Regions from separate parts of the Homo sapiens genome. Here all the other regions are linked to region 2. The links come from fine-mapping of genetic effects on gene expression. A gene starts in region 2. Each other region holds a variant in brackets. All regions are shown on one strand. Distances are between the middles of the regions. Region 1 overlaps LINC01934 (long intergenic non-protein coding RNA 1934). Region 2 holds the start of ITGA4 (integrin subunit alpha 4). Region 3 overlaps LINC01934 (long intergenic non-protein coding RNA 1934).

Region 1 (10,331 bases), 110 kb before region 2:
TTGTTGGTACCAATCTTATAAGAAGTCTTTTACTCTATAAAGAATGTGAGCATTCGTGCTCTAACATATAGGAAAGTTGTTACTACCCAAGTGTAGAGTGGGTACATCACTACCTCTAGCCCTGTTAGAATATGACTGAGATTATATATGGTAATGAAAGTTTTATATATATATATACCCAAAATATTTTTGTAATTTTTGGAGACAACAGAGAGAATGTTACAAAACAGGAATCTGGAATCATTTTCTTTTCTGGAAGGATGTATTATTTGCTCCTTTGATTTATTTCTTCTACAGAACAAAGACAGAAGCACATTTATTTCTGCTTAAAGCAACCTTCCTCTCAGTTTTGCTTTCAACCTAAAACTGCTCTACAAAAGAAAAGACTTTTTTTTATACTCAGAGTTTTTTTTCTGAGATTAACCCCTTTTTCAGAGGGGTTTCATGTTTATTTATTTATTTATTTATATATTTATTTATTTATTTATTTATTTTTGAGACGGAGTCTCGCTCTGTTGCCCAGGCTGGAGTGCAGTGGCGGGATCTCTGCTCACAGCAAGCTCTGCCTCCTGGGTTCATGCCATTCTCCTGCCTCAGCCTCCCGAGTAGCTGGGACTACAGGCGCCCACCACCACGCCTGGCTAATTTTTGTATTTTTAGTAGAGATGGAGTTTCATCGTGTTAGCCAGGATGGTCTCAATCTCCTGACCTTGTGATCCGCCCACCTCGGCCTCCCAAAGTGCTGGGATTACAGGCGTGAGCCACAGTGCCCAGCCTCGTGTTTTATTTTTTACTCTCTCTGATCATAATGGCAGGTGTAGCAAGAACAGGAAAATTCCAAACACTTCTGCTCCCTCTACACTCATTATCCTGGAGACCCTAACTGAGACAAGAAGAGTTTCCTTTCTGACTCAACCAGGCCTCTCTCACTAGCCAACTTTTATAGCCAAGAAAGGAGTATCAGCCAGGGGTGCTTGGAATTTAGGAACACCCTCTTGTGGAGCAAGACTTCCTGGTTCCTCACTGGAAGGTTGCACATAAGAGGCTGATAGCAGCCAGCAATAATAATATGTCTAGTTTCAGCTTTTCAACAAATGTAACTAAAGAACATATTGAGAAAAAGTAGCTTCCACTTCCAGTGGGTAACCAAGAGGAGCTCATAAAATCTGAGTTTCATTAAAGTAAGGTACCACTATGTACCTACTACAGTGACCCGAATCCAGAATACTAACAACAAATGCTGTGAGGATGTGGAGGAAGAAGAACTTCTGTTCATTGCTGCTGAGAATGCAAAATGGTACAGCCACTTTGGAAGACAGTTTGGTGGTTTCTTACAAAATTAAGAATCTTCTTCTCATAGAGTCCAGCAGTCAGGCTCCTTACTATTTACTCAAACTTATGCCCACACAAAAATCTGCACACAGATGTTTATAGCAGCTTTTTTCATAGTTGCCAAGATGTTCTTTCATAAGTGAATGCATAAATAGACTGTGATACCTCCAGATAATGAAAGAATCAATATCGTGAAAATGGCCATACTGCCCAAGGTAATTTACAGATTCAATGCCATCCCCATCAAGCTACCAATGACTTTCTTCACAGAATTGGAAAAAACTACTTCAAAGTTCATATGGAATCAAAAAAGAGCCCGCATCACCAAGTCAATCCTAAGTCAAAAGAACAAAGCTGGAGGCATCACACTACCTGACTTCAAACTATACTACAAGGCTACAGTAACCAAAACAGCATGGTACTGGTACCAAAACAGAGATATAGATCAATGGAACAGAACAGAGCCCTCAGGAATAACACCTCATATCTACAACTATCTGATCTTTGACAAACCTGAGAAAAACAAGCAATGGGGAAAGGATTCCCTATTTAATAAATGGTGCTGGGAAAACTGGCTAGCCATATGTAGAAAGCTGAAACTGGATCCCTTCCTTACACCTTACACAAAAATCAATTCCAGATGGATTAAAGACTTAAACGTTAGACCTAAAACCATAAAAACCATAGAAGAAAACCTAGGCTTTACCATTCAGGACATAGGCATGGGCAAGGACTTCATGTCCAAAACACCAAAAGCAATGGCAACAAAAGCCAAAATTGACAAATGGGATCTAATTAAACTAAAGAGCTTCTGCACAGCAAAAGAAACTACCATCAGAGTGAACAGGCAATGTACAAAATGGGAGAAAATTTTCGCAACCTACTCATCTGACAAAGGGCTAATATCCAGAATCTACAATGAACTCAAACAAATTTACAAGAAAAAAACAAACAACCCCATCAAAAAGTGGGTGAAGGACATGAACAGACACTTCTCAAAAGAAGACATTTATGCAGCCAAAAAACACAAGAAAAAATGCTCACCATCACTGGCCATCAGAGAAATGCAAATCAACACCACAGTGAGATACCATCTCACACCAGTTAGAATGGCAATCATTAAAAAGTCAGGAAACAACAGGTGCTGGAGAGGATGTGGAGAAATAGGAACACTTTTACACTGTTGGTGGGACTGTAAACTAGTTCAACCATTGTGGAAGTCAGTGTGGAGATTCCTCAGGGATCTAGAACTAGAAATACCATTTGACCCAGCCATCCCATTACTGGATATATACCCAAAGGACTATAAATCATGCTGCTATAAAGACACATGCACACGTATGTTTATTGCGGCACTATTCACAATAGCAAAGACTTGGAACCAACCCAAATGTCCATCAATGATAGACTGGATTAAGAAAATGTGGCACATATATACCATGGAATACTATGCAGCCATAAAAAATGATGAGTTCATGTCCTTTGTAGGGACATGGATGAAATTGGAAATCATCATTCTCAGTAAACTATCGCAAGAACAAAAAACCAAACACCGCATATTCTCACTCATAGGTGGGAATTGAACTATGAGAACACATGGACACAGGAAGGGGAACATCACACTCTGGGGCCTGTTGTGGGGTGGGGGGAGGGGGGAGGGATAGCATTGGGAGATATACCTAATGCTAGATGACGAGTTAATGGGTGCAGCACACCAGCATGGCACATGTATACATATGTAACTAACCTGCACATTGTGCACATGGACCCTAAAACTTAAAGTATTAAAAAAAAAAAAAAAAAACTAAAGTAGAAAGAATACTGGAAAATAAAATTTAAAAAAAAACAGAAAAAGATAATGAAAGAATACTCAGCACTAAAAAGAAATGAGCTATCAAACCACGAAAAGACATGGAAGAGCCTTACACGATTTTCATTAACTGAAAGAAGGAAATCTGAAAAGGCTACATATCTGCCAGTGAGGAATACGTGTATGACTCCAGCAGTCTGACGTTCTGGAAAAAGCAAATCTATGGAGATGATAAAAAAGATCAGTGGTTACCAAAACTTGGGGGTTGGGGAAGGAATAGGATGAGCATAGAGGATTTATCAGACCATGGCAATACTCTGTATGAAGTATAATGATGGATACATGTCATTCTTATACATTTGTCTAAACATGCATCCTGTGTGACTGTGCACATTTAAAATATGGACTTTAGGTGATAATGATGTGTCAGTGTATTTTCATCAATTGTAACAAACATACCACTCTGGTGGGGGATGTTGATAATGGGGGAGGCTATGCATGGGTGGGGACAGGGAGTATGTGACAAATTTCTGTACCTTCCTCTCAGTTTTGCTTTCAACCTAAAACTGCTCTACAAAAAAAAAAAAAAAAAAAAGACTTTTTTTTATACTCAGAGTTTTTTTTTTTCTGAGATTAAGTTGGTTCCAGTGATGTGCATTTACTAACTTCCCCTTTTCTCATTTATTTAGAAATAATATACAACAAGATGTACCTCAAGAATCCATAGAAATGGAGCAAATGAACAAATAATCAAGGGCTACTCCTGTCATTATAATTTTGTGGCTGACCTGGAAGTTATCTTGGTGTAGCTCTGTGACTATTTATATAACCTACTCCTAGCTTCTCTCATTCTCAGGGTCTCTATTCTTAACCACAACTATTTAAACAATATATTTATTGGCAATTCTAGATGACAGATGGACATGTGCTAAGATGATCAGTGTGCACATCTGATTTTTCTAAATAGCCCACAGTAAGTGAATAAGTGAATGTTCAGAAAATATCTGCCATGCTAAATTTAAGGTTCTCGTGCATATTTTATTTAGCATTACAAATTGACTAACAAAATTAAGTAGGGAAAATATATATCAGATCCATGATGTTTTGTGAATAATTGACTAGCCACACAGGTGCATAAGATTTCAGATGAAAATTCCTTCTTTTGTGTGGAATATGTACTATTAAAAGATTATAGGGGGAAATTCCATGGATTCCTTGTCATCCTTTAGAATAACAAGATTTTGTGCATAGTTTATTAAATAGCCACCAGTTTTCTAAATTTTTTGCCATTGTTATAATTTTACCTATATCACACTTATTCTAAGAAAATAAAATTTTATCACTTATTCTGACAATCATTATGCTTAAACAAAACTGCCTCTATTTTCTTCTGTTCTGGGGAACAGGTTGCTGCTTAAGCATAGCACTCTATCCTTGCTTTCCTATAGCACTCTGCACTTTCACCTTGTAGCACTTGACACAATTATAATGGTATAATGACTCCTATAATGATTCATTTTATATTTGTCACCACCACTCAATTATAAA[C/T]GATATGCAGTCAAGGTTCATGGCAGAAGTTTTTTAACTCATGCTATGGCCTCAGCCCAAAGTAGATAATCAATGAATATTTTTTTTTAAATTAAAGAATGGATAGACAGAAGAGAGTGGGGAATCCTATATCTTCCTCTACTCTTTGCCTTAGCTTTTCTAGGACTGCTGTGAGTAGTTGGGGCTAAAAGGAGGCAGAGGGGACTCAGGCAGCAAGCTCCTCTGCCACCAAAACCTCTGCTCAATCTGTGCTCAGTCCCTCCCACTTTGGCTCTGGGTGTCAAATATCCTGCCATTGTGGACATAAACAGATGAGAATATGATTACTGTGAGACCAGCAAAAGTTTTAGTGCGCTGACAAAAATAATAATAATAATAATAATTGCTTACACACATGGTCAAGGTCACTCTCACACCACACACCAACATTTAGGTAGCACACACTCAGCCCCTTTTGTAGACAGAATTTATTGTGGACAACTATACTACTATGAGTATATCCTTAACCTTTTGAAGTTGACCTCAGGGAGGAGAACCAGGAGGATAATTTACACAATTCTCTTTAGTGTAACTATCAGAAATAGAACATAAGATAGCTGGAATACAATTCTAGCAGTGTTTTATATTTTACTGTTTTATTCTGATTATTTAACATAAATAACTCGCCACATACAGTACAGCTTAAAATAAATCATTAGAACTATATATGTAACATACTAAGTCTAGGTGGGCCCAGTGATGAAGCAGATACAGGGGCTTCAACAGACAAGGTGAAAATAGATTAAAATGAGCATTAACCACTATTTAAGGAAATGTATGTCAAAAATCAGGTTGTAATAATAAAAATAATATTAAATAGTCATGATGACAGTAATCAAATCTGATGATGGAATGTGGACTCAAAAATACCTAAAGATTAAAAAATTCAGGCCAGGCATGGTGGCTCATGCCTGTAATCCCAGTACTTTGGGAGGCTGTGGAGCTCAAGACCAGCCTGGGCAACATGGCGAAACTCCACCTCAACACAAACAACAAAAATTAACCAGTGATGGTGGCATGTGCCTGTCGTCCCAGCTACTCAGGAGGCTGAGGTGGGCGAATCGCTTGAGGCTGGAAGGCGGAGGTTGCAGTGAGCCGTGAGCCGAGATGGAGCCACTGCACTCAAGTCTGGGCAACAGAGCAGGACCCTGTCCAAATAAATAAATTAATTAAATAAATAAATAAATAAATAAATAAATAAAAATCAAGCAAGAAAATTCCTAATGGGATGGAAATGCTAAATGTTAAATAATAAAGAAAATTGCATATTATGACTTGGTGATTCAAATATTATAATGAAATAATTTATAAGAGATAGTAGAAGAATAAGAAAGTATGTGTTGCTAGTTAAAGTCAATCAGTCAAAAAATATTTTGGTCTTTTTCATCTATACCAACCCTGCAATAACCTTTTAAATGACTTTCCCATTTCTGATTTCTTTGCTAGTCCATCAGGCTCCTTTCTTGACTCTGTGTTTAAGTCATTTTCTCCGTTTCACATGTTCATAAATTTTAAGGCCCAGTTGAATGCTAACTATTTTCCATGAGGTCTTCTCTGATCACTAGCTATTAGTAATGTCTCCCTCCACCAAACTGCCATAGAACTTTTTCAGCACCTCTCTTATTTATGACTCTTTGAACTTTCTACTTTGTAGTTTAGTGACTAATGTACATTTTTTTAAGTTCCTTATTTGTTCATAAACTTTGGAGAGTGCAATTTCTCTTTGACGGCATACACCACACAGTTTATTATACTATTCAGTACACAGCAGGTGCTCAACTGGTAAATGTAGACAGTACACAATTTTCAAGAAAAGTTCTTATACATGAGATTCCAGAGAGCCTCCACACTTCTCTTTTCTCCCCAAGTTTCCTTCCCTGCTTTTCTAAACTTGGCTCTGAGTCCCCATTCAAGACTTAGCTCCTTAGTGGAGCTTCCCCTGACCCCCACATTCAAAGTTGTCTCTTCCCTGACAAAAACTCATCTATTCAACATCTAAAAGGTTTGAGTCTTCATGTGCTACCTTGTGGTAGGTCACCATTTTTATGTTTATCAACTATTACCTGCCTCCCATTCAAGATTGTAAACTTTTTGAGAGCAGAGATCACATTTTATACATTTTGGTACTTACTGTCATTTAGTACTATTTATATATTTAGTAGTTATTGTCAGTCTCAGAACAGTGCTCCACGTCTATTGATTCTATTTTGTTCCCGAGATATCCTAAATATCTAGAACACTATCTGGCACACAGTAGGTGGTCAGTAAGTATTTGTTGAATGAGGTTGATAGATGATTAGTAAAACTTCTCAAAATTTTGAGTGAAAAGTTGACTCTTTGGCAGAAACTTCCAGGAGTTGATTTTAGAGCTAAGAAAAAATAGAAAGCAATGTCCACTCTTGGTAGAGCTAGGCAAAAACAGGCAGATGAAGTAGACACAGGTGTCTTCTCCACAATCCCCATTTCACTTTATCTTAGGCATGTCTCCTTCAGGAGCCACAGCCAGATCAGAGAGGCCTCCACTTGGAAATGATCCATCTCAGTGGTGTGGATGGATTAGACCATTTCTCCCACAACTAAGTGGTTTTTCTCTGGCCATTCTGAGGTATATGCCATGTGTCTCCTTCAGAAATATCCTTTTTCATGTGATGATTTCCAAAATATATTTTAGTCACTTCACTTTGTGTTTAAGTGAATAACTATGTCTCCATTCACTTATCATTAATAAACATATAATAATTCACCTAATCATGGAGGTGTTGGTTAAGCCAGCATATTTTGAGTTCATGTAGCCAAATACAGTGGTATTTAGTCACATGAAAGTTTAGCTTAGAACACAAATATGTGCTTTTTTTTTTCTGTTGGAGCTCTTATCTTGCAACATCCTTCCTTCTTTTCTTCTTTCCTTCCCTCCTACCCTCTTTCCTCCCCGCTTCTCACCCTCCCTCCACTAGTATCTACTGAAGCCCTTCTATGCAAAGCACAATACTACTTGCTGAAGATATAATGAGGAACAAGTCAGAAGTGTCTCTTCCTGTTCTACTAGAATTTACACTCTTAGAAGAGATGCAGACATTCAATTACTATTTTTTACTATTTTAATTCCAACTATTACAAAAGTTGGACAGATAAAGAGGGACAGATAACTATGGGAGCTTAAAGGAATCTATCCTGGTTTGGTGGGAAAGGGATGATAGATTTCAGTAGTCTGGAAAGGGTCACCTGAAAAAATGGTGTTAAGACTGAGTCATGAAGAGCTAGTAGGAAGGGAGGGTGGGAGGAAGGAGAGAGAGAGTGGGGAGTATTCCAGGTAGAAGAAAGCAAATGTGTGGCCTTGAGTGGTCACTTCTCTTTGGCTTATCGTATATATCTATGAGCTAATGAGAATGAAAATTCCTTTTTTTTCAAATTGTTAGGTTAGCTTAAAGAGATATTGACTCATTAAATACAAAACACAAGAAGACATTAATATAAAATTGTATACATTTTTTAAAGCCTATATTTTCTCCCTTGAATTAAAAATAAAGTGCAGCATGTTGAAATGTTGAACCCTGGCCATATGACAAAATTGGAAGTCTCTCTTTGCTTACACCTTGGGGCAGAGGCAGGCATCAGACAAAGTCCTTTTTATTTTGTATCCTTAAGAGTATTTCAAGGTCAAGTTAAATGAAAAACTAGTCATTGGCTCTGTTAGATTTTCAAATATATCCTCAATAAAATGTACACTATTAATCATTTTCATATTGGTGATTTTAATCAACTTTTAAACCATTACTTTTTAGAAAAGTTTTTCACAATTTCTGGTTTCTAGGGTAATTGAAATTTCAGTATATAATTATAGTAGTATAAATATGATACTTAAAAGTATTATTAAAGGTCATTAAAATATTTTAAAAAAACTGGTAGGGCAAGAAGACTTTACTACAAGTTAATGAAATGGGGGTAATTTAGTTGAAAAGAAACAAAATGATTACAAATTAAAGATTACTATTCTGTGGCACTCTTTCTTTAGTTGACAGTGAATAAGGTAGAGTTACTATATTTTTATTCATATTATGATTTGGCCCCTTTCTAGAAAAGTGAAAATTTTATGTAACTCTGATACATGGAATATATTTTGAAATTAAGAAGTATATGTACATATATTAGTCATTATTATTACTGCAACTATTCCTAGTGAAAAATATACCTCATTCAAAGAGAAAGATAAATTTCAACAACTGTTATATATGCACACTTTTTGCCCATAAAACTAAGCAAGCCTAATAAATTAAAATTTATCTAAGTCACAACCATCCAATTAGGGACACTTTCTTGCAATCAGATTACAAAGGATATTTTTATCTCTTTCAATTTAGCAGTCAGGTTAGGGCTCCCTAATAGAAGGCTGCGTAGCTCATTAGTCCTACCACTTTGGATGGCCTTTACTCTTAACTTCATTCTCCGTAACTCAAGGGGAGTCAGTGTGTAACTGTGGGTGCAGAGCAGCAATGAGGATGCTTGAGTCTTCATTCTGAAGGGATCACCTGTGGAAAGAATGATCAGCTTTCAGAAAATCTCATCTGGTTAAGTCATATTTCTCTGCTTTAAAATGTTACAGGATTTCTCATTGCCCTTAGCACAGTTTCTCAAACTTTATTGAACATCAGAATTACTTGAAGGGTTTTCGAACTCATGAATTATTCGGCCTTGCCCCAGAGTTTCTAATTCAGTAGGTCTTGGGTGGGGAACATACTTTGAGAATTCTGACCTATAGGATAAACACTAGAGTTCTTATTATGTCTTACAAGGCCCATCATGATCTGAAGGCAGCGGTGGTTGCTGGTGGAGGATGTGAGCTTTGGAACTGGAGCTCTTTGATTCAAAGCTCTGCCGCTTACTCACTGGATAAGACCATGATCAAGTTATTTCATCTGAAAAATTGAGGTAATAATAATATCTCCCTCTTAGGGTGGTTATGAATATTTTATGAGATAGTACTTTTTAAAATAGGTAGATTCCAGAAGAATATCAGCTATTAGGATTATGATTACCTCTCCGGTTTCTTCTCTTGGTTGGATGTCCTAGTGCCAACCATACCAGACTACTTCAGACCATAGTAACATCACGGTTTTCCATCCTTGAAGCTTCAAATGTTCAGTTTTCTCAATATAGTTTCTACCCTTTTCCTACATCTTTCCCACCTTCATCTAGCTAACTCCTACTGAGACTGGAGAGCTCAGCTTTTACGTCACCATTCCAGGAAAGCCAACCTAGCCATGGTTGTATGTACTTTGCCATTAAAACACTGATGTCCACGTACATGTTTGTATCTGTCTTCTCTACTGGACTACAAACTCAGGAGGGTAAGAATGATCTGTTCACTGGTACAGTCTCCATGCCAAATAGTTGCTTAATAGGTATCTGCTGAGTACATGAATGAATCATCATTCATGCTGTCTGTGGGATTCTGGTCTGGGCTCACAAAAAAAAAAAAAATGAAAGTTTAGTATAGAACACTGGAGTGGAGAGATCTCTGCCCCTTCACTGGAAAAATATGCCAAGACTGGAACTGAATGACAATAGATACCTAGCACCTTTTGCGAAGTTATGAATATCAGAG
Region 2 (10,331 bases):
TATACCCACAAGAATTGCCAGATCATATCATCGTTCTAGTTTTACTTTTTTGAGGAACCTCTATTCTGTTCTTCATAGTGGCTGTAATAACTTACATTTCTAGCAGCACTGTATGAGGGTTCCCCTTTGACCCCATTTTGTCACCGGCAACTGTTTTTGCCTTTTTTATATAAGCCATTTTAACTGGAGTGAGGTGATATCTCATTGTGGTTTTGATATTCATTTTTCTAATGATTAGTGATGTTGTACATGTTTTCTTATACCCGTTTGCCATTTGTATATCTTCTTTTGAGAAATATCTGTCGAGATCTTTTGCCAATTTTGAAATTACATTCTTTGTTAGGTTTTAGTTTTGTTGCTATTGAGTTGTTTGAGCTCCTTATATATTCTGGTTATTAATCCCTCATCAGATAGTGTGCCAATGTTTTCTCTCATTATGTGGGTTCTCTCTACATTTAGTTGATGTTTTCTTTGCTGTGCAGAAGCTTTTTAGCTTGATGTAATCTCATTTGTCTATTTTTGTTCAGGTTGCCTGTGCTTTTTAGGTCTTACACAAAAAAATCTTTGCCCAGACCAATATCTTAGAGCATTTCCCCAATGTTTTCTTTTAGTAATTTCATAATTTCAGGTCTATAATTCATTTTGATTTGGTTTTGGTGTATTGGTTATTTCAATAGATGCTGAGATAGCATTTGATAAAATTCAACATTCCTTTATGATAAAAATTCTCACCAAAATGGATATAGAAGGAACATACTTCAAAATAATGAAGGCCATATATGACAAACCTACAGTCAACATCATACTGAACACAGAAAAAATGAAGGCCTTTCCTCCAAGGACTGAAACAGACAAGGATACCCCCTCTTACCACTGTTATTCTACATAGTGCAGAAAGTCCTGGCCAGAGCTATCAGGCAAGAGGAAGAAAGGAAGGGTATCCAAACTGGAAAGGAAGAAGTGGTGAGAAAGTTTTAATTTTATTTTTTTGCATGTAGTTATTAAGTTTTCCTAGCACCATTTATTAAAGAGACTGTTTTTTTCCATTGTATGTTCTTTACAGCTTTGTCACAGATTAGTTGGTTGTAAGTGCATGGATTTATATGTGGATTCTCTATTCTGCTCCATTGGTCTATGTGTCTGTTTCTATGCCAATACTGTGCTGTTTTGGTTACTATAGCTTTGTAGTAAATTTTGAAGTTAGGTAGTGTGATGCCTCCAGCTTTGTTCTTTTTGCTCAGGATTGCTTTGGCTATTCAGGGTCTTTTGTGGTTTCTTATAAATTTTAGGAATTTTTCTGTTTCGTGAAGAATGTCATTTGTATTTTGATAGGAATTGCATTGAATCTGTAAATTGCTTTAGGTAGTATTGTAATTTTAACAATATTAGTTCTTCCAGTCTATCACGGAGTATATTTCTGGGTTTTTGTGTCCTCTTCGATTTCTTTTATCAGAGTTTTATTTATAGTTTTTCCTTGCATAGATATTTTACTTTTTTAGTTAAATTGATTCCTAGGTATTGTACATTTTTGTAGCTATTGTAAAAGGAACTGCTTTCTTGATTTTTATTCAGATTGTTCACTGTTGTCATATAAATGCTATTGATTTTTGTATGTTGATTTTGCATCCTGCAACTTTACTGAATCAGATCTAACAGCTTTTAGGTGGACTCTTTAGATTTTTCTAGGTATAAGATCATGTAGTCTGCAAACAAACCTAATTTGACTTCTTCCTTTCCAATTTGGATACCCTTCCTTTCTTCCTCTTGCCTGATAGCTCTGGCCAGGACTTTCTGTACTACGTAGAATAACAGTGGTGAGAGGGGGTATCCTTGTCTGTTTCAGCCCTTGGAGGAAAGGCCTTCATTTTTTCTGTGTTCAGTATGATGTTGACTGTAGGTTTGTCATATATGGCCTTCATTATTTTGAAGTATGTTCCTTCTATATCCATTTTGGTGAGAATTTTTATCATAAAGGAATGTTGAATTTTATCAAATGCTATCTCAGCATCTATTGAAATAAGTATACCGTTTCTGTTTTTGATTCTGTTAATGACTTATATTTAGATGGTATTTAAAGACATAGGAAATGGGTTAGATCTCCTAAAGAGGGAAGATGGAAAGAGAATGAAAGAGTTTCCAGAATATAGCCCTGGGGGTTTCCCGCACTTATGGCGGAGGGAAGGGAGCCATCAGAGGAAACTCAGAGTGGCCAGATAGAAAGGCAGGAAAAAGCTTAATAAGGTGGTATCATGAGAAGAGAGTCTTCCTAGAAGGAGAAATGCTTACTCTTGATAAAAACTGAAAAATAGGGTGAGTCCACATTAGAATTCTCGCTACTGGGGAGGACTTTCTACACAAGGTTAGAGATCACTTGTATTTTGTCTACTATAATTTTAGTGCATAATGCATTTTTTTGGCATATAGTGGGCACTTATATACATATTAATCTGATGACATTTAATAATTGAGTGCCCAAATATTTATGTCGAGTTGAGAGCTAGGGATAGGCATGAGTCTTTCTTAAACATCCTTCTCTTCTCCTTCCTCCACCCCCTCACTTGCCTTCAGAAGCATTGATCAGAGAGATAGCAGTATCTTCAGTTTTTTTTAAAGCAACATGAAACACACTTTATTCCTGCTAACATTAGGAAAAGCGAGCTGTTTTCCAAGCCCTGGAGGAAGGAAATTCAGCTAACTAACGTGAGGTAATGTAGGGTGGCTATTTCTTGAAAGGTAGTGAATCATAACTATAACCATACTATGGAAAAAAGTCCTGCCTTACCAACCACTCCACTGACTGCTTGTCACCAAAACTACGCTATGAAACGAATTGTGTTGAGTGGCTTTCATTGTAAAAGATTTTGGTGAAGGGAGGGAAAGAAACTGGTAGGGGTTCAGATCAGAAGATCTGGCTTTGCCAGTTTCTGGAGGGTGTCAGAATGGCTTCAACATACCTACTTCCTTGGCCTCAACTGGAGGTTTTGTAGCTGTAAACAAGAAGGATTGCATAGTTCAGAATAACGACACTGTAAGCTCATTGTGGAACTGGGTTAAAATCAGCATGTAGATCTACTAAGAAAGAAACACACTCAGCACTACTACAGAAAGAAACAGCCATGGGCCCTGATTGTTAGCTTTCTGGAAGCCATTTCATTTTTACAATAGATTTATCACACACTGTATTGACTTTTTCCAGTATAGAGTAAGAGAAAGTTAATATTCCTCATGTTTTGTCTGTTGACAGACTGAAAATAATTGCATTGAGTTTGGCTAGAATATCCTGTCATTCCATAAACATCTCAAACTCCACATGGCTAAAACTTAACCCATCCATGCCCCCATCTGCATGCACACATACATGCATATAACTTCATTTCTCAGTGTTTTTTTCTCCATGAATGGTAGCACCATTCTCTTTCAAGAAAGAGAAATACTTCCCCTTGGGATTATCCTATCTCTACTTATTGCTGCAGGGGCTTCCAAAATTAGGTTTTCTGTGTTCAGTCTTGCATTCACACTTCTGAAACCCAGAGCTGACCGAGACAAATTCTTCAACTTCCTGTCAGTCCCAACATAGATTTAAAATTCCTAACCTGGCTCATGAGGTTCACCATGTATTCCTGCTTCCCTAAGTCAGCCTCATATCACACCAACCTGTGTGTGGAGTGGCTAAATACTCTAGCCAGGCAAGCTCTCTCAGTTCTTCTACCTGGCTCCTCTGGAGCCCTCCTTATTGCTCATCCCATTCTTAGCCTGATTCAAGATTCCTGGTCCTTCAAATCTCTCTTTAAGTGTCCTTACCTGGATCTTTCTCTAGTTAGTACAAATTTTTCTATCTACCATTGGAGCGAACATTTTTTGAAACTTTGTATCAGTCCTGCCTTACTCTTGGTGGAATCCTGTGGTCCTAGTCAAGTGCCTGCTCCATGAATGTGCTGAATAAATGAATAAGCATTTTAATTGTGTATCTGTCATTAGTGTCAGATGTGTTATTTATTCCAGCATGGTTTTAGCACACAGACACACTCTTTGATGCAGACTTTTCTTTTCTTTTTACATATAGCAACAATAAAAAACTAGACTTTCATCTCCTGAAAATATCAGTCTAATAATCACCTATGGCTGTCTCTCTGGTTGCTGAAGGAAAAAAAAAAAAAAGGCAGGGCACACCTGGATTGCATTAGAATGAGACTCACTACCCAGTTCAGGTGTGTTGCGTTGTGGGTCTCCGGCACATTTCAGAGGCTCATTAGGACCCTGACCCCACACTGGGGTTTACACCCCTAAAAGCAGGTGTGTCCCGTGGCAACTGAGTGGGTGCGTGAAAAGGGGGGATCATCAATTACCAGCTGGAGCAATCCGAATCGGTTAAAGTGAATCAAGTCACAGTGCTTCCTTAACCCAACCTCTCTGTTGGGGTCAGCCACAGCCTAAACCGCCTGCCGTTCAGCCTGAGAGGCTGCTGCTAGCCTGCTCACGCATGCAGCCCGGGCTGCAGAGGAAGTGTGGGGAGGAAGGAAGTGGGTATAGAAGGGTGCTGAGATGTGGGTCTTGAAGAGAATAGCCATAACGTCTTTGTCACTAAAATGTTCCCCAGGGGCCTTCGGCGAGTCTTTTTGTTTGGTTTTTTGTTTTTAATCTGTGGCTCTTGATAATTTATCTAGTGGTTGCCTACACCTGAAAAACAAGACACAGTGTTTAACTATCAACGAAAGAACTGGACGGCTCCCCGCCGCAGTCCCACTCCCCGAGTTTGTGGCTGGCATTTGGGCCACGCCGGGCTGGGCGGTCACAGCGAGGGGCGCGCAGTTTGGGGTCACACAGCTCCGCTTCTAGGCCCCAACCACCGTTAAAAGGGGAAGCCCGTGCCCCATCAGGTCCGCTCTTGCTGAGCCCAGAGCCATCCCGCGCTCTGCGGGCTGGGAGGCCCGGGCCAGGACGCGAGTCCTGCGCAGCCGAGGTTCCCCAGCGCCCCCTGCAGCCGCGCGTAGGCAGAGACGGAGCCCGGCCCTGCGCCTCCGCACCACGCCCGGGACCCCACCCAGCGGCCCGTACCCGGAGAAGCAGCGCGAGCACCCGAAGCTCCCGGCTGGCGGCAGAAACCGGGAGTGGGGCCGGGCGAGTGCGCGGCATCCCAGGCCGGCCCGAACGCTCCGCCCGCGGTGGGCCGACTTCCCCTCCTCTTCCCTCTCTCCTTCCTTTAGCCCGCTGGCGCCGGACACGCTGCGCCTCATCTCTTGGGGCGTTCTTCCCCGTTGGCCAACCGTCGCATCCCGTGCAACTTTGGGGTAGTGGCCGTTTAGTGTTGAATGTTCCCCACCGAGAGCGCATGGCTTGGGAAGCGAGGCGCGAACCCGGCCCCCGAAGGGCCGCCGTCCGGGAGACGGTGATGCTGTTGCTGTGCCTGGGGGTCCCGACCGGCCGCCCCTACAACGTGGACACTGAGAGCGCGCTGCTTTACCAGGGCCCCCACAACACGCTGTTCGGCTACTCGGTCGTGCTGCACAGCCACGGGGCGAACCGATGGTGAGTAGAGTTGGACTGATGCGCCCTCAGCAGCTCAGAGCGGCGTGAGAATGGCGCCCTAGGGATTCCCTGCCCGATTCAAACTTTCCTCCCTCCCAAGGAGGCAGGAGGGAAACGCTGCGAGAGCCAGCTCGCTGGAAATCTGCCAGGGAAACTAACTTATCTTGGGGCGGCAGCGCCCCGGGTGCGTTATGGTGCAAGGTCTTGGAGCTTCGAGTCGGGGGTGGTGGGCGGAGGAGGAGGTGGGGAAGCTGCCCTGCTGCGGACTGCACATCTGTGGCGACAGGGAGCTCAGTGGGCAGCACAGCTCACGTCTGAGCGCACGTGCACGTGTCTCGCTTTAGGCTCCTAGTGGGTGCGCCCACTGCCAACTGGCTCGCCAACGCTTCAGTGATCAATCCCGGGGCGATTTACAGATGCAGGATCGGAAAGAATCCCGGCCAGACGTGCGAACAGCTCCAGCTGGGTGAGTTGGGTATGGGACCAGGAGTTAGTGACCTCCCGACCCCCCATGTGGACCCCACCATAGGGCAAGTCCTGGAAAGATTCACGTTGCCTGTTACTTCTGGTTTAAAGAGCATAAAGTTTTCAGTTTCAACTCCATCTCATCTTGCCTCCTTAATATAAAAGGGATTCCCTTTCTGTTAATATCGTTCTCCCTTTTCCTTATGGCAATGATTGCAGTACTCTGACAACTATGCTAGAGAAATTTCTTATGATACCTTCTCTTCATCTCTCCCCGTCTCTCCGTGTGTAAAGCACATTTTAGACTCTCTCAGCGTATTAAGGACAGGATCCAGCTAAGCCAAGACTTGAGAATTTTATTTCCATCTTTGACCTATCAACCCTCTTAAAGAACAGGCTAAGGAGCATATCAGGAATAGCAATTGGAATTGATCCCATATCCCGTCGTTTAACCTAAAGGCCTAAAAAAAAAAGTGATAGTTTTACTTACAATATACAATCTAAAAGAAAAGGAAAATTGGCATCTTCATCGTTAATGTAGTATAATTTTCCATTCCCAAAACCGTCATCCAAAACTCATGTTATATGGGTCCATCTTTTTGCAGTCATTTCTCAATGTCTCAGATTTGTGACAAGTTGAAAAATGTGTACTGATAGAGGGGAGAAGTTTCATGTTTCAAAGCCAAAGACAAGTTTGTTGCACACAGGCAAGTGGGGAAAGAGGAAGGAATATTAAATAACAAGACCTATCTTGTTCCAAAGTGTTACTGCTATATATATTGCTTAACTTTTTTCCCCTTAAAGCAACCCTGGGTCATGGTTGACATTGTTCCTAGTTTATGTATGAGGACTGTGGCTCAGAGTTGCAAATACCTTTTTAAAAGTTACTTAGCTAGTGACTGATAGGTGGGAACTAAAGTCAAACTAGGGTCTGAATGCGTCCAAAGTCTAAGCCATTTTCTTCCATGTATGTATCTTCAATGCAAATAAAATTAAGTGAATGGTTTAATATGTTGTCTGCTGAGCTGATGGGTCATCTGTAAACGGTGAATAAAATTGGTACTTCTTTATATTTCTTTGCTATAAATGGACTTTTGAGATTAGTTATTGGATCTTTAACTTCTTTTGTATTTTATAGTAGTCTTTGCTCTTTTTCAAACTGTGAAGCTGGTTCCCTTCATTCAGATGAATTCAGATAGAGTATAAACATAATGGAATTTTTACTTTTAACTCAGAGCACCTATAAAAGTCTACGAGTTGTCTGTAGCATGTAGAATAAGCCCTAGCCTCTTGTTAAGCATCCTCAATACCAGAAATCACAGTAGGAATGCATAAAACATTCACAGACCCATACATTTTGGAATGATTTTGCAAAGCATAATTTTCATTGCATGAGAGAGTTGTGGGTGAAGAATTAGGGAGTGGAGCCGACAACTTTGGTCTGCCAGAGGATCTTGGCAAGGTCTCAGGAGGGAGCAATTTTATTTCTGTTGTCCTGTCATAGTTTCCTGATCCATGACATTATAACTACTGATATTTAGTGCCTACTTCCTGTCTGGATGGACACTGAATCTATTTCTGGATGTCTGTGTTTAACTGGATAAATCATGACATAATACTGTATTAAATTTAAGATAATGCCTGTCAATGGAAGGAAAAAATTGTTTGGGCATGTGTAGCATGGGAGTTGACTGTTCTCAGAGAAATGTAAACATAGTAGATATGTCATAGATATGAATTAAATGAAGATCTTTTGGATGGATGAATGAATAAAAGTGGAGTGAAAATTTATCAACCTGACTGATGAGTAAGATAATTGATTAGAAATGATGAGCCAAACTGATTTTTAACTTTCAAAATTTTGGCCAATCTACAAGGTATTTACTGGGATGAAAGGAAAAAAGGCAAGATTCCTAGTCAGTCAATGAGTTAAAACATTAATAGTGATAGTAATGCCTTGAGTATTTGCCGAAGAGTTGACTGAAGTTATTTCTCATGTAACATTCTAAAGAATACAGATATCTTTTATTCCTCATGTAAAGAAACTGCCTCTCTATTCAGAATAAATTCAGTGGTAGCTTGAAGCTATAAAATAGGGATTGAGGCTACAGTCTAGAAATAAAACACTAAAAACAATACATTGGTAATAAAGATAATTTAGGATTCTTAGGTTTGTGGGCTATGCACTATTTTGTATGAAGAAGTTTCAAGAGTGTGTGTAAATATATATAAGCCATCTTCTGTAGAAGAGTGTGTGTGTGTGTGTGTGTGTGTGTGTGTGTGTGTGAATCTTCTGTATAAAATAGCTTCAGTTGTCCTGTTTCAAATGTGGGTGACTCTAATGTTTCAAAAATGCTTAGCTCAGTACTGACACATAATACATTCAAAAAATAGTGGTTCTTCTTTATTGTTTACTTAAATCTATTATCTGTATGTTATCTGTAACAAGCAGGCTGAGGTTAATAGGGACAATTGATAAACTGAACCAAAAGTTTAAAAATTAAAAGGTAATACATTAAAAGGTAGAAGTTGAAATGAAACACAATGAGAAATTTTTGTTGGCTGAAGAAAAAAATGTTATAATGATTAAAGATCGATCTGTGATTGCCATGTCAGTAAGGTATCTTCTTTCCTTTGGAATAGCTTTACTTGCTATCAAGAACCTGAAGGTGTAGGGTCTTCAAATGGTGCCCATCTCCCACACAATTAAAAATATCCACATGGACTAGTCTTTGAGTCTCTGTAGAATTTCAGATCAGTGGTTGATTCAGATAGACTCCTCCCCTCAAAAGAGAAGGTCCATATCTCGCCTACCCTACCCTCTGTGGACAAGGTGTCCCATATGGTATATTCATGCCATAAGCAGAAGTGAGCCTGCCTGTTTATCTAGAATGCCCAGGGTGAGAGACGTTAGGCATGAGATACCCCTTTTAGTCAAGCAAGTTGACTGCAGAGCCAGCACCAAGAGAGTTGCCTGGATAGTACCGCAAGGTGCTTTTCTTCCTGCATATATATTGTTGGCCTCCTTTTACCTCCCTGACTCCCCAAGAGACATCTCTTCTCTCACTTCTTTTGTACCAGAGGAAAGTGGTCTCTCTGCCAGGAGGGTCTGGGCCCAGACTTGCTCGTGAAGACTATATCTGAGGAGACCCAGGTGATTTCTACATGTCCACTTTCCACCCGGGCACTCTGCATCATCAGGCTTGTTTAAAGGAAACTTTAATCACAGCTGGTTCCTAAATTAAGGTGTCACAAATAATGACTCAATTAATATAGTTAAGCATAGTCCATCCATGGACTATCAATATTCAAATAGAACATAATAAAACATAGAAATGATTATCAAATTACACTAAAAAGATGGTCTTTATTTGGTTATTCAAATATGTTTCCAGATCTTTCATTACTTTGGAGTTACCACTGAAAGCATTATACACACACTAACTCTCATTTGGGTAATAGTCTAAAGTTATACAATTACACTATCCAGTATAGTATCCACTAACCACAGGTGGCTTTGAACACATAAAATGTGGCTAGTCAGCGATGAGAGGGCTGTAATGTAAATTACATACTGGCTTTTGAATACTTAGTATAAGAAAACTCATTAATTTTTATGATATATATTGAAACAAACACTTTAAAATTATTGATTACATAATATTTTGGATTTATTAGGCGAAATAAAATTTTAGGTTAAATAAAATTAATTTTATTTTTACTTTTTTCATGTGGCTATTATAAAATTTAAAATTTCCAATGGGCTTGTATTATATTTCTATTGGACAGCACTGCTGTAGAGAAACATTAAGTTCTCTGTGTAAAAATAACGCTATCTCTTTAGGAGATGCTTTCCTGATATTTATGCATAAATGAGTAGAACTTTCACTTTCTTTTCTAGACTAAGTGTTCTATAGTTACTGGGCCTTCAAGCTGCCTGCCTGTCCCTCTCTTACAGGAAAGACCCATCTCAAGTTAGTCACCATTACCCATATTTAGATTTCTTTCTGGAAATTTTATTACCTTAGCCAGCCTCCTGGTTCATATTATATAACCTATTTGAAAGAATTTAATTAGCATTGCATTATTAAACTAATGATTACCTAATCCTCACTTCTACTTGATTCATAGGAGTTATTAGCTTAACATTAAATAGCAAATATCTCACTGTTGAAACTTCAAATATGTTTTTCTTGATAACTTTTTACTTTTTCATTTGCAATGTGCTTTAAATTGTAGCTTATGAAGCTGAGATTGCAGATTGGTCATTTTGAAAAATCATCCCTGAATGAAGGCTGTTATACAATTATGTAGAAAATCAAGACAGAGAGCTTCACTAA
Region 3 (10,331 bases), 160 kb before region 2:
GGCAGCAACAGATAGCAATACAGAAAAGCAGAAAGCCAAACTTTGAGTTATAAATGTTTCTATGGCAGTGACCCTTTGTGAATTTAAAAATTGAATTTAAGACCCCTTTTCGTCATTCTCCGTATTTTCAGTCTTGGTCAATAGGTCTGCCCCTAGAGTCAAAGTGTTTTATTACCCTACAAAGCTTTTAATTATGTGTTTGTGAGCCCAAATATATCCTAAAACAGCATGGTGGAAGCGATGGCCCAGTGCCTCTTTGTTGGAGGCATTCTTGTAAAACAAATTATTTTTCTTATATGATCTTGGAATATATCCATTTCAGAATATATATGTTCAAGGTATCCAAAATATGTGTGTGTGTACATGCTTGTGTATAATATGTAGTATAAACTACGATATGATATAAATAAATAATATAAATATTAATTTATATTATTTATATAAATATTATATTTATATTATTTATATAAATATTATATTTATATTATTTATATAAATATTATATTTATATTATTTATATAAATATTATATTTATATTATTTATATAAATATTATATTTATATTATTTATATAAATATTATATTTATATTATTTATATAAATATTATATTTATATTATTTATATAAATATTATATTTATATTATTTATATAAATATTATATTTATATTATTTATATAAATATTATATTTATATTATTTATATAAATATTTATTTATATTATTTATATAAATATTATATTTATATTATTTATATAAATATTTATTTATATTATTTATATAAATATTTATTTATATTTATATAAATAATATATAAATAAATATTTTATATGTATATAAATATTATTTATATTATTTATTTAAATAAATAATATAAATTAATATAAATATTAATATTATTTATTTTATTATAAATAATATAAATATTATATTTATATTTATGATATTATAAATATTTATAATATGAAATATTTTATAAATATTATATTATTTATATAATTAAATAATATAAATATTTATTTATGCAATATAATATTTATATAATTTATATAAATAAACAATATACATATATTTATGCAATATAATATGGCACTGAAGTCATGTACAGAAATATTTGAACTTGACTCCACTAAAGGCAGCAGAATAAATATTGTGTATATGTTTAAAATATTAAATATCCAAAGAGTTTTCATAAAAACTGAAACTGTGCTTTTGTATATTATTGAAAATAAGTATTTTATGAAGAAAAACATATATTTTTAAAACTGCATATTTTTATAATATTAATTTCTTAACATAATGGAAACTAGAATCAACCTACAAAACCTTATCATTCCCAAAAGTATCTGATAAAAGTAACTTGTCATTCAATCGAGCCACCATGTATTAATAACTTTTCAAGTGAAAAATCTAAGATGAAATACCAAGACGAACAAGGCACTATTTTTGGTAAAGTGGCTCATATCAAAATTATAGTTAGTCTTGTGAAAATAATGAGTAATGTTTTTGGTGAACGAACAAAATATCACATATTTTTCTCGCTTTCTCTCAAAACGGAAATATCTTGATCAATTTTTTCCTGATAACAAAGCAAATGTATGTCCATACTAAAAAAATTCAGACAATCCTGCTGAAACTTACTTCTTCTTGAACCTCCCTACCTCCCTACTTTCCTTCTCCACCCACCCTCTACTCCAGCTTTCCTATTTCACAAAGATAAAAATTGGATGTATATGTATACATGTATGTGTGGATGTGTGCTTGCATATGTGTATGCTTGCATCTGTAGCACTTGGTATGTAGTTTAGTGCCTGGTACATGATAAGCACTAAATAGATGTAAGCTTAATTATAATTTATAGGTGACTCGATTGCATATTTGGTCTTATAACTTTTTTGGTAACATGCCTTTTACTCTATACTGTGGCAGGGATTTTTTTTCACATATAATCATATAGATCTCTCATGCATGTTGATGAATATTTTGCATTCATTTTATTGTTATATCTTAATTTGTTTTAACAAGTTCTGCTAGATGGTCATTTCATGGTTTAAATTTATTTTTGCAAAAATGACAATGTTAAAATAAACATTGCCCTCCAAAAATATTGAACAAATTTATACTACCAAAACCAATAAATATGAGAAAACTGATTTCTTTCTACTCTCATCAGTACTTGGCATTACTCGTACTTTCTCATCTTTGCTACTCTGAGGAATGACAGATGATATCACATGATTGAACTAACTGGCATTTTTGTCAATTGTCTTTGATGTGATTATTAGTCATTGGTTTTCTTTGAGATTGCCTTTCCATGTCATGTAACCATTTCTTTTTGTGAAATTTTTATATGCTTTCAGTATGTGCTATTTCTTTACATATTATGAATATAAACTCCATTTCTCTCACATAGGTTGTAAGTTTTTTTCTTCAATTTATCACTTGTCTTTTGATTTTTTATATTATATGGTATATTCTTCCATGCAGATATGTGTCAACTCTCTTTTTCTTTATGCTTTATAACCTTTGATGTCAAATTAGAAAGCTTTCTACTTCAAGACTTAGATAATACTTACTCTTATGGTTTTCCCATTACTTTTACAACTTTATTTTTTTATGCTAAAATCTCACCCATCTGTTTCATCTGAGAACTATGCCCATGCATTTATGCCTTCAGATAAAATAACCATTTTCGGTTTTTGGTCAAAATATTGAATATCTATGAATTAATTTTGAGACAATTAATATCTTATCAATTCTGAATCTTCCTACCCATAACAAATATGCTATGCCTTTTCATGTATTTAACTTTTCCTTTATGTCCTTTTAGATATCTTTCTAATTCTTTGTATGGTTTTTGAATATTTCTGAAATTATATCTCTGCAGATATCCCTGCCAAAACTCTTGGAAAAGATCGGCTTTGGTTACTTTCCTCCCCTCTGAACAAATCTTCATGGCAAAGGGAAAGAAGCATTCTATTTGGCTAGGTCCAGTGTGGCCCTTGAGTTAGGCCAGGGAAAAGGAGGGCATACAGGTTGGCGCCAACCCAATCCAAACCACCGGTCTGAGCAGGAATGCTGTGGGTGGGGTTTGAGTTTTAAACGAAGAGATGCTAGGTAGAAAAAGTAAGAGAATTTTATTTATACTAAATTCTTCTTTCTTTCCCTAAACTATGATTCATCTAAAGCACTAGCTCATCCCCATCGATGCTCTTTAAACCAGACACCGTCCCTCTTCTCTCCACTTTGGTATTCATGACTTCTGCCTCCACAATCTCATCAAAAATTAGCAAATTGGAATTAACAAACCTAGAATGTCACAACAAATCTTTGTCTTCACAAAGTTTTATATCAAATTGAGATTGTTTTTGAAAATGCTTCTATTTTTATTTCCATTTACTTAATGTTAATTTTTGCTCTACTTTTTCTTTCTTTCTTTCTTTCTTTTTTTTGCTTGGCTTGGCTTGGTAAACACAAGAAAATAAAGATTTTCAGATTTCTTCTTTATCTTGCTCTGAAATAAGATCTCTTTTTTTGTTCTTTGCGTGACACTGCTTGGAAACTTTCTTGGGGCTGTATTTTAATTATAGGATTCAAATCTATTATAATTTGGGGGTTGTAAATATGTGTCCAGAGACCTAGGATAAAGGGTAAAATTAAATCCATGTTCCCATTTTGATCCTGGGTTAGGCATAGCAATGAAAAGAACTAAACGTTCTAAATGGTTACAGTTCCAAACTAGGTAATTATTAATGATTAATTGCTTCTCCATGTAAATAAAAATGATGAAGTTTAATCTATACATTGATTTCTACAGACCTGGAGTGATAATGGATTTTTTAAATAGTTTCTGAAATGTTTTTATTGTCCTTAACAATAAAATAGTCACCTAAAGCAAGTCGCAATTTACAGAAGAAAACCATTAACTAACATAGATTGGTTTATATGGCTACCTGTTTGTATACTTCAAGGGATATAGATTGATGAATATTTAATTTTCAGTACATTTATAAGTGATAAAAGAATCTATTACTTACCAGTGTTTGTTTTAAGGTGTGCTACCTCAAAGCACAAAAGAGATATAGAAATACTCTACCCTAAGATAAAAGGAGATGTTGCAAAATATTTAGAAACCAATGAAGATATTCCCTAAAAACCAATTATCATAGGATGTCCAATATTTGGAAGTGATGCCCCGATACCATTTTATGATAATAGATTATCTAACAAAGTTGAAAGTATAAATAATTATAATAGCAAACAATGTTGTATGTGAATAAACTAGAACTTTTTTGTTTGGGTTTTGCAAAAAATAACACAGAGCTACAGACATTGTATATTATAATTAAGTAAATGAAAATATTGGTTTTGATTTTGGAAAACTTTTCCTGCCACTTCCAATTTCTGTTATATTAATTTTAGTTATTATTTTAATCTTGCAGATTTATTCTTCAGCCATGCCAAGTTTATTATTCAGCTTTTACTATTTAAAAAATTTGATAGTCATATTTTCAGATTTCAAAATGCAGTAACTCCTGAATGTTTACACATATATTAACACTTATATTTCCAATTTCTTCTCCTTATTATGTAATCTCTGACTCCATCGTTTCATCTCCAAATTTAGAGCTCTTGGGAGCTCCATGGGTTAGAATTACTCACGTCTTTGGTGTAACTTGCTCAGGTACATTTTCCAGGATAAAGTTCCTCTGTGGCTTGTACATCGATATGAACCCATTTGCTTTCAGATTTCCACATAGTTTAGGAAGCTGCTGTTTGTTGATGACACACTCACTCTTATTTTCAGCACTATCTACAGATTTGTTCTTTTTAGTATATCTTCACTGTCACTGAATAGCATCATTGGAAAGAAGTGAAATACACCTGGGTGTTCAGTAGACCGTTTTGAACCAAAAGTCCAGTTCCCTTTTAACAACAAAGAATAGGAA[A/G]AAAAAAACCTACTTTCAGAAATATTTTTTATTTAAATTCATATTTTTTCTGTCATTTTTGAGAGCTTTACTATGAACTATACTGAATGATAAATGTTTTATATGCATTTTCTCATTTAATCTTCATGTCACCCTCAAAGGTGCAGATTACGTTCCCCTTCTTATAAGGAAGAAAACTAAAGTTCAAAAAAGCTAAATAATTTGCCCAAATCATACAGGTAGAAAATAACAGATTTGAGAACTAAACCTATAGTTAGTTGTTGCCAGAAGCTATACTCTAATCACTCTACATACTGCCTTTCTATAGTAGACCATTTGGTCTACTATTTCTAGTACACTTAGCTGCAAACACTTCTTATTGCCTATTATAAACTCAGTAGTTTCCTAGATGTTGTATTTGTAAAGATGAATAAGGCAGTCTAGGTATACATCCTAATTCTTGAAGAATTTCAAAGGAAGGAGAGCAAGATGGCAGAATAAAAGTCTCCACTGATCGCCCTACTCCAGACAAGGACACCAATTTGACAACTATTTACACAGAAAAAACACCTTTATAAGAACCAAAAATCAGGTGAGCACTCATAGCACCTGGCTGGAACTTCATATCACTGAAAGAGGCACTAACGAGGTAAACAAACAAACACAAAAAGTCCTGAATCGCTGATGCTACCTTTTCCCCAACCGCAGCAGCAGCGATGTGGTGCAGGTAGTATATCTGGGCACTGGAGGAAGGAGAGGACAGCAATTGTGAGGCATTGAACTCAGCACTGTCCCATTAAGGCACAAAGGAAAACAGGACCTAACTCAGCTGCCACCTGCCCATGGAGGGAACATTTAAACCAGCACTAGCCAGAGGGGAATTGCCAATCCCAGTGGTCTGAACTTGAGTTCCCACAAACCTCACCACTGCGAGCTATAGTGCTCTGTCTCCAAGTAAACTTGAAAAGCAGCCTAAGCCATAAAGACTGCAATTCTCATGCGAGTCTAGGGCTGAACTGGGCCCAGAGACAGTGGACTGGGTGGGGTAGGGGGCCACAGGACATACTGAGACATCAGTTGGGATGGCTAAGGGAGCGCTGGCATCACCCCTCCTCTAACACCAGGTTGCACAGCGGCTCCAAAAGAGACCTCTTTATTCCTTTCTTCTGCTTGAGGAGAGGAACAGAAAGTGTAGAGAGGGCTTTGTCTTGCCTCTTGGAGACCAGCTCAGCCACTGCAAGACAGGGTATCGGTTAGAGTCATGAGGCCTCCATTCCAGGCCCTAGCTTTCAGACGACATTTCTAGACACACCCTGGGCCAGAAGGGAACCTGCTGCCTTGAAGGAAAGGGCCCAGTGCTGGCAGTATTTATCACCTGCTAACCGAAGAGCCTTTGGGACCTGAACAAGCAGCAGTGACACCCAGGTGCTACACCAACGGCATTAGATGAGCCTCTGAGACTTACTGGCTTTAGATGAGACTTGGCACATTACAAGCTGTGGTGGCTATGGGGCAAAACTCTTTCTGTTTGAGAAAAGCAGAGGGAAAAAGTAAAGGGGACTTTGTCTTACATCTTAGGTATCAGCATGGGCCACAGTGGGGTAAGCACCAAGTGGGATCTTAGGTCCCTGATTCCAGGTCTTGACTCTTGGATGGCATTTCTGGACCTGCCCTGGGCCAGAGGGTGCCCACTGCCATGAAGTGTGAGTCCTAGGTCAGGCAGCATTCACCACAAGCTGACTTAAGAGCCCTGGGGCCTTAAGGTAATTTTGGAGGTAATCTGGCAGTAGTCCTCATGGCCTGGGTGGTGGTGGCTAAGGGTTGAGGCTCCTCTGCCTTTGGAAAGGGGAGAGAAGAGTAAAAGGACTACATCTTGTGGTTTGAGTGCCAGCTCAGCTGCAGTACTATAGAATACCAGGTAGACTTCTAAGGTTTTTGACTCTAGTCCCTGACTCCCAAAGAGCACCTCTGGACCCAGGGAAGAATGCAGACATGGATGGCTTTGCCACCTGCTGAGTGTAGAGCCTCAGGGCCTAGAGGGAACATAGGCAGTAGCCAGGGAGTGACTACAGCAGGCCTTGAGTGAAACTCAGCACTGTGCTTGCTTCAGGTCTGACCCAGTGCAGCCACAGTGGTCATGGCCACAAAGATGCTTCTGTCACTTCACTCCTAGCTTTAGGTGACTCAGAGCAGAGAGAGGGCCTCTGTTTGGGAGAAAGTATGGGAAGACAACAAGATTCTCTGCTTGGTAATCCCGAGAATTCTCCTAGATCTTGCTCAAGACCATCAAAGCGGTACCTCTACGAGTCTGCAAGAACCTCAGCGTTACTGAGGGTAGGGTGCCCTTTAAAGCAGTTACAGCTTAGATTAAAACACCTAAGTCTTTTTAAATATCTGTAAAGCCTTCCCAAGAAGGATGGGTACATATAAGCCCAGACAGTGAAGACTGCAGTGAATACCTAACTCTTCAGTGCCCAGACACTGAAGAACATCTACTAGCATTAACACCATCCAGGAAAACATGACCTCACCATTTGAGGTAAATAAGACACCAGGGACCAATCCTGGAGAAACAGAGATATGTGACCTTTCAGACAGAGAATTCAAAATAGCTGTGTTGAGGAAACTAAAAGAAATTCAAGGTAACACATAGAAGGAATTCAGAATTCCATCAGATAAATTTAACAAAGAGATTCAAATTATTAGAAAGAATCTAGCAGAAATTCTAGAGTTGAAAAATGCAATTGGCATACTGAAGAATGTATCAGAATCCTTTAATAGCTGATTGATAGCAGAAGAAAGAATTCTTGAGCTTGAAGATAGGCTATTTGAAAATTCAGTCAGAGGAGATGAAATAAAAAGAGTGAAGAAACAATGAAGCATGCTTACGGGATCTAGAAAATACCCTCAAAAGGGCATATCTAAGAGTTATTGACCTTAAAGAGGTAATAGAGAAAGAGATAGGGTAGAAAGTTTATTCAAAGGAATAGTAACAGAGAACTTTCCAAACCTAGAGAAAGATATCAATATCCAAGTACAAGATTATAGAACACCAAGAAGATTTAACCCAAAAAAGGCTACCTAAAGGCATTTAATAATCAAACCCCCAAAGATCGAGGATAAAGAAAGGATCCTAAAAGCAACAAGAGAAAGGCAACAAATCACATACAATGGAGCTTCAATACATCTGGGAGCAGAATTTTCAATGGAAACCTTACAGGACAGGAGAGAGTGGCATGACATATTTAAAGTGCTGAAGAAAAAGTACTTTTACCCTAGAGTAGTATATCCAATGAAAATAATCTTTAAACATGAAGGAGAAATAAAGACTTTCCCAGACAAACAAAAGCTAACATCAACACCAGACCTGTCTTATAAGAAATGCTAAAGGAAGTTCCTTGATTAGAGAGAAAATGATGTTAATGAGCAATAAGAAATTATCTGAAGATACAAAACTCACTGGTAATAGTAAGTACATAGAAAAGCAGAGAATATTAGAACACTGTTAAGTGTGGTATGTAAATACTTTTATCCTAAGTAGAAAGAGCGCTTAACCAATCAAAAATATTAACTACAAAATTTTTCAAGACATAGTCCAATGTGACATAAATAGAAACAACAGAAAGTTAAAAAGGAGAAGGACAAAGTTGACGCATAGAGTTGTTATTAGTTTTCTTTTTGTTTATATGTTTGCTTGTTTATGCAAACAGTGTTAAGTTGTTAGGGTAAAATAATGGGTTATAAAATAGTATTTTTAAGCCTCATGGTAACCTCAAACCAAAAAACATACAATAGATACACAAAAAATAAAAAAGCAAGAAACTAAATCATATCACCAGAGAAAATTACCTTAATTAAAGGAAGACAGGAAGGAAAGAAGGAAGGAAGAGAAGACTAGAAAACCACAAAATAATTAATAAAATGGTAGAAGTAAGTTCTTATTTATCAACAATATCATTGAATGTAAATGGACTAAACTCTCCCGTCAAAAGACATAGAAAAGCTGAATTATTGAATCAATGAAAAAACAAGACCCATTGACCCCTTGTCTACAAGAAACACACTTCACCTACAAAGACACATATAGACTGAAAATAAAGGGTTGGAAAGTGATATTCCATGCCAACAGGAACCAAAAAAGAGCAGGAGTAGCTGTACTTATATCAAATAAAATAGATTTAAAGACAAAAGCTATAAGAGACAAAGGTCACTATATAATGATAAAGGGGTCAATTCAGCAATATATATGCAGCCAGCACTGGAGCACCCAGCTATATAAAGCAAACATTATTAGAACTAAAGAGAGAGATAGTCCCCGGTACAATAATAGCTGGAGACTTCAACACCTCACTTTCACATTGAACAGAACTTCCAGACATAAAATCAACAAATAAACATTGGACTTAATCTGCACTGCAGACCAAGTGGATCCAATAGATATTTACAGAACATTTAATACAGTGGTTGCAGAATACACATTAATTTCCTCACCACATGGATCATTCTCAAGGATAGACTATATGTTAGGCCACAAAACAAGTCTTAAAACATCCAAAAAATTGAAATATGTCAAGCATCTTCTCTGACAACAATGGAATAAAATAGAAATCAATAACAAGAGGAATTTTGGAAACTATACAAATACATGGAAGTTAAACAATATGCTCCTGAATGACTAGTAAGTCAATGCAGAAATTAAGAAGGAAATTGAAAAATTTATTGAAAAAAAGATAATGGAAACACAATATGTCAAAATCTATGGAATATAACAGAGTACTCAGAGAGAAGTCTATAGCTATAAGTGCCTACATCAAAAAAGAGGAAAAACTTCAAATAAACAATCTGATGATGTATCTTAAAGAACTAGAAAAGCAAGAGAAAACCAAACCCAAAAATACTTGAACAAAAGAAATAATAGACCAGAGCAGAAATAAATAAAAGTCAAATGAAAAAAAAAATACAAAAATCAATATAACAAAAACTTGTTTTTTAAAAAAGTTAAAATTGACAAACTTTTAGCTGGACTTAAGAATAAAAGAGAGAAGATACAAATAAATAAAGTCAAAAATGATAAAGGAGACATTACAACAGACACTGCAGAAATTCAAAGGATTATTAGTGCTGCTATGAGCAACTATATGCCAATAAATTGGAAAATCTAGAAAAAATGGACAAATTCTTAGACATATACAACCTACCAAGATTGAACCAGAAAGAAACCTAAAACTTGAACAGACCAATAACAAGTAACAAAATCAAAGCCATAATAAAAAAATTTTCCACTAAAGAAAAACCCAGGACCAATGGCTTCACTGCAGAGCTCTACCAAACATTTAAAGAACTGTATACTTCCTAATTCTTGAGGTGCTGGTTCAAAGGAATGTAGTTAAGTAAACTGTTAAGTCGT

The links.
Region 1: its variant is fine-mapped to the expression of ITGA4 in whole blood (TOPMed, PIP above 0.99).
Region 3: its variant is fine-mapped to the expression of ITGA4 in whole blood (TOPMed, PIP above 0.99).

Annotation. Positions count from the first base shown.
Region 1 is chr2:181,344,689-181,355,019 of GRCh38, forward strand. The region is part of intron 3 of LINC01934 (long intergenic non-protein coding RNA 1934); the gene reads left to right. Among named protein-coding and RNA genes, the nearest start is that of MIR4437, 44 kb to the left of the region's middle. The variant C/T (reference allele first, on the strand shown) is at 4,691.
Region 2 is chr2:181,452,326-181,462,656 of GRCh38, forward strand. It overlaps ITGA4 (integrin subunit alpha 4), which reads left to right and starts at 5,061. Exons shown (of 28, transcript NM_000885.6): 1 at 5,061-5,526; 2 at 5,871-5,992. The coding sequence starts at 5,330. RefSeq lists enhancers at 4,568-4,677, 5,398-5,587, 5,648-5,697, 6,058-6,107, 8,885-8,934 and 1 more and a silencer at 4,858-5,247.
Region 3 is chr2:181,288,167-181,298,497 of GRCh38, forward strand. The region is part of intron 3 of LINC01934 (long intergenic non-protein coding RNA 1934); the gene reads left to right. Among named protein-coding and RNA genes, the nearest start is that of MIR4437, 12 kb to the right of the region's middle. The variant A/G (reference allele first, on the strand shown) is at 4,946.